Linked DNA regions of Homo sapiens: region 2 is linked to region 1. The links come from fine-mapping of genetic effects on gene expression. A gene starts in region 1. The other region holds a variant in brackets. All regions are shown on one strand. Distances are from middle to middle. Region 1 holds the start of ZNF35 (zinc finger protein 35). Region 2 holds the start of LINC01988 (long intergenic non-protein coding RNA 1988).

The links. PIP is the estimated chance that this variant, and not a neighbour inherited with it, causes the effect. A credible set is the group of variants that fine-mapping cannot tell apart.
Region 2: its variant is the best candidate, but not a certain one, in a credible set for the expression of ZNF35 in whole blood (INTERVAL, PIP 0.76).

What each region holds. Positions count from the first base shown.
Region 1 is chr3:44,645,524-44,650,906 of GRCh38, forward strand. ZNF35 (zinc finger protein 35) reads left to right here and starts at 3,209. Exons shown (of 4, transcript NM_003420.4): 1 at 3,209-3,311. It overlaps ZNF660-ZNF197 (ZNF660-ZNF197 readthrough), which reads left to right. Exons shown (of 8, transcript NR_147692.2): 8 at 1-2,948. It overlaps ZNF197 (zinc finger protein 197), which reads left to right. Exons shown (of 6, transcript NM_006991.5): 6 at 1-2,948. The region is part of intron 2 of ZKSCAN7-AS1 (ZKSCAN7 ZNF cluster antisense RNA 1); the gene reads right to left. RefSeq lists enhancers at 2,894-3,453, 3,332-3,501, 3,582-3,691.
Region 2 is chr3:44,423,245-44,428,627 of GRCh38, forward strand. LINC01988 (long intergenic non-protein coding RNA 1988) reads left to right here and starts at 4,678. Exons shown (of 4, transcript NR_144436.1): 1 at 4,678-4,914; 2 at 5,311-5,380. It also overlaps the pseudogene C3orf86P. RefSeq lists an enhancer at 1,600-1,739. The variant G/T (reference allele first, on the strand shown) is at 2,239.

The DNA of each region.
Region 1 (5,383 bases):
GGAAAACAATTTATTTCCCAGCTTTTGAATTTGAAACTTAACAGATGGAGAGTGTCAAAATGGAAGGGCAGTGGTACCCTGCTTTCCCTATTCAGAGGGAAAAAAATCCTTGACCCGCAGTTGAGCTGATGATCCCTGCCACAGTCATTGTGAATTCTAATCAATATTTCATCATTGCTGTCAAATGATAGCCTGTTACTAATGAAACAACATTCTGTCCCAGCACTAAATTTACTGGGACATAAATTTTTCACATGGAGCCAAGCTCTTCACTGATTAAGCCAGTGCAGAATCCACTTGTGGGCAGTCAGTGCCCATTACCCCCTGTGAACCATTCTGTGCCCTTGAGTACATTTGTGGGTTTAACTCAGTCTATATTCTTAAGTTGGTAATTTTTATGTTGTAATTCTCAAAGTTCTGTTTCTGTAGCTGGACTATGAATAATACCTGAATATGAAGATTGTGTTTTTTAATAATGTCAAAGTGGTGTGTTGATTATCATAAATGTTATTAATTCAACCCCACAGTTTCTTGGGGGCTGGTTCCTCATTAGAGTGAAAGGTAGCCAAGAGTGAAAACTGGAAGGGGCCTAAGGCTTAAAGTCTTAAGACCTGGATGTGGTTCAGGTTTTGCCATCTGCCTCAGAAAAAATCTCTTCAGTTCTTGGAGCCTTGAATTCCTCATCTGTTAAACAGGAGGAAGAATATCTACCTCACAAAGTTCTTATGAGATAATGAATATAAAAATGTTTCATCCAGGTTGTTGAATCATCCCAGCTTATATAATAATTACAAAGGACATATGTACTTTAACAATGGAGAATGCTGTGATTTACCTCTTCACCGAGTAACAAAATGTCACATTGCTTAGATTGAGACAGCCCACATAATGTGCCACCTTCTGTGATGTAATAAGCTGAAAAATGTTCAACCTGAATTTAATCAAGCTTCTTGGACCTCATTGCCAGGTTACAGGAAATACAGGAGGCAGAGGAACAAATAAAAGACACCACGAGAAACAGACACATCCAGAACGTGGAATATTGCATAAGAAAGCTGCCCTGGATTCTTCAAAATATTATTATGATGAAAAAGAGAGGGGAGTGAAAATTGTTCAAGCTGTCTTGAGTCTGCTGTGAGTTTATTATACCATTCTCTGCTTTTGTGTATGTATGAAAATTTCGATATGAAAGGTATAAAACATGGATGAGGAGGCTTGTTTTTAAAAGATAATACTAGAGAGCCGTTAGGTACTAAGAACCAGAAATAGACTCACATAAATGGCCAATTGATTTTTGACAGGGGCAAAAGCAATTCAATGGAGGAGGGATCGCCTTTTCAGCAAATACTGTTGGAGTAATTGGATATCCATAGGCAGTAAACCAACAACTTCAGGACCTAGGACTGAGCTAAGAAGGCTCAGATGACTCAAAAGCATGCTCCTTAGAAGGAAAAAAAATGTTAAATTGGACTTCATCAAAATTAAGATAATTTACCCTGTAAGAGACCTTTTTACAAAGATGATATTACAGGTTGGGAAAAAATATTTGCAAATCATATCCAACAAGGGATTTGTATGTAAACTACATAAAGAACTTTCCAAATTTAACAGTAATAAGTAAATACAATTAGAAAATAAGCAAAAGACAGACATTTCACTGAAGTATAGATAGCAAATAAGCAAATGAAAAGATGTTCAACATCATTAGGCATGAGGGAAATGCAGAGTAAAATCGTGAGATATCACCTATCAGAATAGCTTAACTTTTTTTTTTTAATGGTGGTAACTGCTGGCAAGGATGAAGAGAAACAGGATCTCATACATTGCTGGGAATGTAAAATGGTACAGCCACTCTGGAATATAATTTGGCAGTTTCTTGTAAAACCACACATGTATATGTCATGCTTCAGGAATTGCACTTCTGAGCATTTATCCCAGAGAAATGAAAACTTGCGTTCACACAAAAACCTGTATACGAATGTTCATAGCAGCTTTATTTGTAATGGTCGAAACCTGTAGGCAACCCATATATCCTTCCTTAGGTGGTTAAAACAAATTGTGGTTTATGTATTACCATGGAATACTTGTTACTCTGCAATAAAATTGACTTATTGATATCCATAACAACTCAAATAAATTTCAAGGGAATTAATGCTGAGTGAAAATAATCACAAAAGGCCATATTCTGTATGAAAATATTCATATAACATTCTCAAAATGATAAAACTATAGAGATGAAAAATGGATTAATGGTTGCCAAAGGTTAGGGATGGTGGGAGGAAAAATGGGGAGAGGGTTGGATGGAACTATTAAAAGGTAGCACCAGAAAGGTCTTTGTGGTGATGGAACACTTGTGTATCTTGATTGCAGTGGTGGTTACACAAATCTATAGGTGCTATACCTATACACACATACTGTACCAATGTTGATTTCCTTTTTCATTTTATGTAAGATGTAACCATGAGGGGAAAGTGGGTGAAGGGTGCTATCTTTGCAACTTCCTGTGATTCTATCATTTCAAAATAAAAAGTAAAAACCAACAATGGCAACGAAAACCCAAAACTAAAGAGCTGTAACCAACTAAAGTGTGTGAAACTGATTTGAAAAAAAGTTATAAAATACATGTTTTAGGACAGTTGGGAAATTTGAATATGACTGGTTATTAGATGGTATTAGGGAATTTTTGTTGATTTTCTTACCTGTGACGGTGGTGGTAGTTTGAAGAATATTCTTAATCTTAAGGGATGCATGTTGAAGTATTTGGAATGAAGTGTTCTGATGTTTACAACTTTCAAAAAAATGATTTTAAATATGTATTGAGAGATCAGGCAAACATAGCAAAATGTTCATTGTTGAGTCCACATGGAAAATACGGGTATTCAATGTGCCATACTTTCAACTCTTCTGTACTCTGATATTTTCAAAATAAAACATTTGAGGGGAAATTATCAGGGCTTTCTACAGATTAATGCTGTGTAGCTTCAGGCTCTTGGGTGCGCGCCTCGCCTGAGTGTCTCATCCCTGCTTGGGATGCGCCCCTCCCTGAGGCTCACTTAGAGCTTCCAACAGCACAATCCTCCTAAGCGCTTCTGCCCCATCCCTGGTCTGGGGCGACATTGGACACCCATCGAGAGGAAAGCACCTCCGAGGTTCCTAGAGAGGCCGGCTTGGCGACTTGGGGAGCCGGAAGCCCATCCCGAGGCACTTCCTGTCCGGTCATTGTTCTCGTGCCGGTAGAAGCTGAAGTACCGGTCAGCCAGCCTCCTGCTGCAGAGCCAGTGAACTCAGGTCGGGCTTCTCAGCTGCGCACAGTGAGTGGGGTCGGAGGGGGTGGGCACGAACGTCGAGGGAGAAAAAGGGGCTCTCCCAGGGGCCATGGCCCTAGGAGCGGCCCCTGCGTCCTTTCCCCGGGGACACCAGCCTTGTCTGTCGGGGTGCGGGGGGCAGTGAGTTCCCCACCGCCTCGGAATCCCGGCTGCTGCCCACCTGGGGCCTGGTCCGGGAGAGGATGCACACGGACCGGCCAAGGGGCCAGATAGGTCCCAGGGACAGGGCCGCGAGGAGCCTATACGTGGAAAGAATGGATTGCCACGTTTGGAAATAGAGAAAGGACGTTGAAAGGGAGCCTTTGATAGAGGGCCCTGTGCCGTCTGGGACCGGAGGTCCGTCAGAATCTGATCAGAAGTCTGATGAGAGTACTCACTGTAGGCAGTCTTATACACAAGGTGGAACTAGTCTTAAGGACCTTCATACCAGATTGAATTCGGATAGTGATGGAAAGAATAGTCCTCCAGAATTAAGGTTTGTCACAGGAATGAAAGTATTGCATTACTTAATAAATTCAGTGTATACAGTAAGTGGCCAGTAAGTTGACATGGGGAAAAGAGTATGATCACTTCAATAGCAGCAACAGGGGATTGAATAAGATTTCGCACCCTTTTCCAATAAAACATTCAAAGGGGGTTAGAAAGAAAAATTTCAATCTCTTCATAAGCAATCAAACTAGTAAGGTTATTTTGCTCACAGGTTAAAAACAAAAACCCTGCTGGCTTAGCTGTGATAAAGGGTTACTGTCAATTAGTGGGGGTGTGAATTGGCATGGTGCTTTTGGAAAGCAATTTGACAGTACATATCAACCAGCAAATCCTTGAACCAGTAATTCTCTGATTATTCTAAAGGAATAATTCAGCAAAAAAAAAATATTTACAAAGAAAAACTTTTAAATATTAATAAAATGGAAATATAAACTTTTACTAAATAAATGGTTCATAAATAGAATATGATTAAGTAAATGATAATATAGCCACAATTTAGAATACTATGCCAGAATGAGGTAGTTCTATATGTGTTGTATTGAAAGATTGTTAAGACTATTGTGAAATACGGAAATTGAGTTAAAAAACAATGCAGGTTGCTGAACAGTATATAACTGTGATGATCTAAAGTATGTTTTTGAAAAATAAGCAATATGTGTGAAGGTGAACATATAAGTATGTAAATGCAGAGAAAATGGGTTAGGACTCCCATCTAAACTGATAAGTACTTTGTGTGTGTGTGTGTGTGTGTGTGTAGTGTGTGTAGGTTATATATTTAATTCTATATATTTCTGTATTACTTGATCCTTTTTCAATGAGAGTGAAGATTTATCAACACCATAGGTTATTGTGTAGCATTTAAAATAAGCATGAAGAATGGCAACATGAAAGTAATCTTTTTTTAAATCTTAAGTGTAATATTTTATCTCACAGGACATTTGGAAGCTATGGAAAATGTAAAAATCAAACAAAAAAAATGAAAAGAACCTTAAAACTACCTGTAATTACACCATCCAGAGTTAACTACCCACTGCTAACACGTTGGTATAAAGACTCCCAGTCTTTTTCTTGGGATCCTTTTGTTCACATTATTTTGTATCCTTGGCAATAAAAAATCTTTTTGTTGTAAAATCCTTTTTTAAAAAATGCTATGATGATAATTGTGAAAATATGTATCCCCAAAGTCAAAAACAAGAATTTGTAAAATCATAATTATTAGTAGTATGGTTGGAGATTTTCCTTTGAAAGAAATATCTTAAATCTTAAAATGTATAGTGGTTATCTCTTTGGAGGTAGACCGAGATGATTTTTCTTAATCATTTGCTGCTTTTAAGTTTTTACAATAAAAGTAAGTTAACTTTTAATCAGGAAAAAATCAATAAACATTATATAAAGCTGTTTGCAATGTGGTTATTATGGGAAGATATTACATATTTATAGTCCAACCCCTTCATCCTATGAGGGAGGAATAGAGGATTCCATGTCCTACATTGGCCCCTGGCCAGGCGCTGGTGAAATTTGCCGGTGTGGCATCCGGCAAATTTGCTAAGTGGCATCCAGCAAATCTC
Region 2 (5,383 bases), 220 kb before region 1:
GTAATCCCAGCACTTTGGGAGGCCAAGGCGGGTGGATCATGAGGTCAGGAGATTGAGACCATCCTGACTAACACGGTGAAACCTGTCTCTACTAAAAAAAAAACAAAAAAATTAGCCTGGCTTGGTGGCGGGGGCCTGTAGTCCCAGTTACTTGGGAGGCTGAGGCAGCAGAATGGCGTGAACCTGGGAGGCGGAGCTGGCAGTGAGGCGAGATCACGCCACTGCACTCCAGCCTGGGTGACAGAGTGAGACTCCGTCTCAAAAAAAAAAAAAAAAAGTCATTCATTTCCCATTCTTACAAATGGCCACAAAAGGAAACGCCTATGCCATGTGAACACGTTCTCAGAATAAGTACAGGAGGCAGCCTGCAAGTCTGGGCGACTCTTCCTACTTTCTTTCCATCAAATTCCTTCACCTTCTTTAGAACAGACACAATGACTGTCAATCCTGAGAAACTTCAAGGTGCGCTACCTAGAATATCAACCAGCTCAACCAGAAGCTGATCCTGACACCTGTGTCCTACAGGAAGTTCTGATTTGCTCAGGTGGAGAGGATTTCCCCAGCATCCCCTGGTGGCCACAAGGCCATGGGGGAGTCAGCACAACCTGCAGAGATCCCCTGGTTCAGGGTGGGTGGAAACAGGGGGTTCGGGGGCTGAACAGTTAGAGGCTGGCCAGGAGCTAGGGAACTGGATAGGTATGAAGGGTTTGAAGCTTACCTGTCGGAAGGTTCTGGGGTGGAGGAGTCTGTGGAGGGAGCTTCAGAGAGCAGGAGGGGCATTAGAAGGCTGGGGCCCCTGCAATCTAATCTTTGTTGTGTAATGCGTTTCCCGCCCTATCCCAGCCTAGCTTCTGCCTGGTGATCTCAGACCCCTGCAGGGCAGCTCCCCACTCACCCCTGCACCATCCTCGCTGTCACAGTGCCTGATGCCCCAAAACTGGAAGTGTGCCTGCCATTGCCTTTCCCTGCCTGGTTTCCAGCAGTCCCATCACATGGCTCCAAAAAACAGCATCGGGGTTTTTTTCTAGAACCCAAATTTATAAACAAGGGGCAATGTCCTCTGACAAGGTTGGTTTGTGCTCAGTATAATGGTAGCCAGGGCTACCTGGATCAGGAACATCTTGTGATCCCCTCCCTACTCCCCTGGGTCTGGCTTGCTGGGCCTCACACCCTCTTCACACCCTGGTCTCCCTGAGAATTAGATGCAGCTCCCCATGTCACCAGCTGCTTACTGGGACTGCCCAGCCCAGGCCCACCTTGAATCCTCACCACGTTCCCCACTCTATGGACCCAGCGGCTGCTGTGTGTCCCATGGAGCCAGCCCATGGTGCTGGCAGAAGATGGAACAGTCGTCCTCCTGGGCTGGCCCCAGGTCACCCAAGCAGGCTTTTCTCCTCTCCTCACCTGCCTGATGGTGCCCACCCGATGTGGGGCAGTCCACAGGGCTGCTGGAGCTTAGTGAGAAATGAATCCCTTCCCAGCCCCCAGGGGCTTGCCCAGCAGCCTTTCCCCATTGGTGCTAGTAGCCTTGGGCCTTCCCAGAGACTGCTGCAGGCCTGTCCGTAGCATGAGGCCATTGCTAAGGTGAAGGAGAAGCCTCTGTCCCCTCTTCCCTCCCTGGCTCAGCTCACCTGCTCTGGCAGTGTGCTTGGTGAGGCCAGGTGTGCTTCCTCCCTTCCTCCCCAGGGCCTCTCCACCTCGGTCCACACAGGGGCAGTTTCCCCAGGAAACTCTAACTCATTCCATTACCTTCCCCCAGCTGATCTTGGAAACCCCCTTGCTGTGAATATTGGCAAGCTTAAGAGCTTATTGCCCCCACCATGGCGTCCAGCTCTTGATCAGTGTGCTTTGAGGGCTTTGTCTTCCAAGCCTTGGACAACCCTGAATGCTGGTTAGTCTTTGGCTGGCTCCAAGACGCAGTGTCACACAAGTACCACCCTGTGGACACGCTGAAGTTCCCATGGAGTCTTTTCTATCGAAAACTCAGCCTCTTTCAGGCCAAACACCGGCTCCCTTCATGTGCATAGCTTTCTAACTGGTACAATTTCCCCAAAGATAATTTAGAATTATAGTGATCACTTTGGGGAAACTCTGATATATACAAAACAAAAACAAAGCAAAATTCTGAATATCCAATGGTCTGCTGTCTTTAATTGGTATGAGGAGGCTCCTAAACACAATTTGGACTCAAAAAATGCTTCTCTAAAATATTCTTTAGCTATAACTAATATGAAATAG[G/T]AGCATCTTTTCCCTCATGTGCATCTTTTTTTTCTTTTTTCTTTTCTTTTTTTTTTTTTTGAGATGGAGTCTCACTCTGTTGCCCAGGCTGGAGTGCAATGGCACCATCTCAGCTCACTGCAAACTCCTTCTCCCAGGTTCAAGTGATTCTCCCGCCTCAGCCTCCTGAGTAGCTGGGATTACAGGCCTGTGCTACCACGCCCAACTAATTTTTGTATTTTTAGTAGAGATGGAGTTTCACGATGTTGGCTAGGCTGGTCTCAAACTTCTGACTTCAAGTGATCCACCCACCTCAGCCTCCCAAAGTGCTAGGATTACAGGCATGAGCCACCGTGCCCGACCAAGCATCTTTAAAATGTTGACATTTCCAATGCCCTTGCCACATTTTGTGAAAGGCTTCAGGTCCAAAACTGTCACTATGTTGGGTAAACAAAAATGTTGGCTGGCAAATCACTCTATTGCATAAACATCAATATTTGGCTAAACATTTTTTTTTTTTTGAGATGGAGTCTCGCTCTGTCACCCAGGCTGGAGTGCAGTGGCGTGATCTCAGCTCACTGCAAGCTCTGCCTCCCCGGGTTCACACCATTCTCCTGCCTCAGCCTCCCAAGTAGCTGGGGTTACATGCGCCCGCCACCATGCCCGGCTAATTTTTTTTGTATTTTTAGCTAAGACAGGGCTTTACCATGTTACCCAGGATGGTCTTGATCTTCTGACCTCATGATCCACCGGCCTTGGCCTCCCAAAGTGCTGGGATTACAGGCATGAGCCACTGCACCTGGGCTTGGCTAAACATTTTAAGGAGACTCTGGATATCAAGAATAAAAGACCCCTCATGAGGAAAATCTTTGTCTTGTTTGCCTAAATGACAGATCATTTTGTTTCACAGGGAGGCATCACTTCCTTCCTTTCCATAAGTTGGAGATTAATACATTCTGGCTTTTAAAAAATTGTATGGCTTGATAGAATTGTCACAAACTGAAATTATGTCAAAACCAGATATAGGACACTCTCGTGTGTGTATTGTATATATGTCTAAACTTTCATCCCTCTTCTTACAGAGAAAAATGATTAGTTATTTGTCTAAAGCCAGCTCCCTCTCATTTTTTTTCTATCCCATTTCCTCTCCTTTTCCCTCTTTTGAAAACTTAACAAAATGAAAGACTTAACAAAAATTACATTCAGCCGTTATGCATATATTCTAGGAATTTTTAGTTCAGGTAAAGTCTAAATTGTCTAAAGAAAAAAGTTATTGAACTATTTTTTATGGACACTAGAAAATGTATTTCCCTGATAACCTTTTAAACTAGCTATGACAAAAGAAAAGACGCCAACTTCAAAATAAAGGAAAATGTTAGCATGATTCACTCCTTATTAGTTTATTTTTTTAAAAAATGTTAGTACAATATTTTGGCTTATTCCAGACCAAAATTAGATTTCTTATAATTCAAACTTCCTAAATTTCCTACATTAATTTTATTTATTTATTTATTTTTGAGATGGAGCCTCACTCTGTCCCCAGGCTGGAGTGCAGTGGCACAATCTCGGCTCACAGCAACCTCCACCTCTCAGGTTCAAGCGATTCTCCTGTCTCAGCCTCCCGAGTAGCTGGGATTACAGGTGTGTGCCACCATGCCCAGCTAATTTTTTGTATTTTTAGTAGAGATGGGTTTTCACCATGTTGGCCAGGCTAGTCTCAAACTCTCGACCTCAGGTGATCCACCCGCCTCGGCCTCCCAAAATGCTGGGATTACAGGCATGAGCCACAGCGCCCGGCCCACATTTATTTTGTAAATGAAATGTTTTCATCATTTCCATAACTTATTTAAAATAAAAAATTTTGACCGGGTATGGTGGCTCACATCTGTAATCCCAGCACTTTGGGAGGCCAAAGCAGGTGGATCACTTCAGGCCAGGAGTTAGAGACCAGCCTGGCCGACATAGTGAAACCCCATCTCTACACCAAAAATACAAAACTTAGCTGGGCGTGGAGGCACACGCCTGTAGTTCCAGCTACTCGGGAGGCTGAGGCACAAGAATCGCTTGAACCCAGGAGGCGGAGGCTTCAGTGAGCCGAGATCATGCCATTGCACTCCAGCCTGGATGACAGAGCGAGACCCTTTCTCAAAAATAAATAAATAAAGTAAAATAACAGATATAAATTCACCCTTGAAATATAGAGCACTCTCAAAAACTGAATTGACTTGACTCTCCCAGAAATCGAAGCTCATATGACTAAAATAATTGCCCTCACCCAGGCATGCCAACTTGTGAAAGTGAAGTATGTAGTTATGCTGGTAGTAAAGGGGCTTTTGTCCACAAATTCAGAGTGCTTAGAGAACCCCAGGGGAGGAGCTCAGTGGGTGGAGTCTCCAGAGATTTGCCTTGGAGGCTGTTGGGACAGCAGGAGTGAGTGCTGTGATTGGCTGGGACCTCGATGTCACAAAGGTCAGGGACAGCTGCCAGAGAATGAAGCAGAGGGCTGTGGGGTGAAGGGACTGCCAGTCTTCTGCCACTCCTTTTCGTGGTCCTTCCCTTCACTGCCTTCCTTCTCCCAGACAGACTGGGCATCCAGTTCCAATCCAAAGGCTGCCCCTTTGACCAGGCCCATCTTCTCCACCTCACATCAGACAGCCAATCGGCTGCCCAGACCTCGAAACCTCAGTAACCTAGAAGGTAAGGACTTTCAGATTTCACCAGGAAGGATTATCCCTTCATGCCTTATAAAAGTAACAGAACCGGTCGGGCACAGTGGCTCATGCCTGTAATCCCAGCACTTTGGGAGGCCAAGGCAGATGGATCACCTGAGATCAGGAGTTTGAGACCAGCCTGGCCAACATGGTGAAACCCCCTCTCTACTAAAAATACAAAAAATTAGCCAGTCATGGTGGCACACGCCTGTAGTCCTAGCTACTTGGGAGGCTGAGGCAGGAGAATCACTTGAACCAGGGAGGCGGAGGTTGCAGTGAGCCAAGACCTCATCATTGCACTCCAGCCTGGGCAGCAAGAGTGAAACTCTGTCTCAAAAAATAAATAAATAAATAAAAACTAATAGAACCTATCAATTCATAGGAAATGGACCTTGGCAAACGTGTGTCAGGAGAGGATGACTTGGAGGTGTCCACCGTGTTTCTTACTGAAGGTT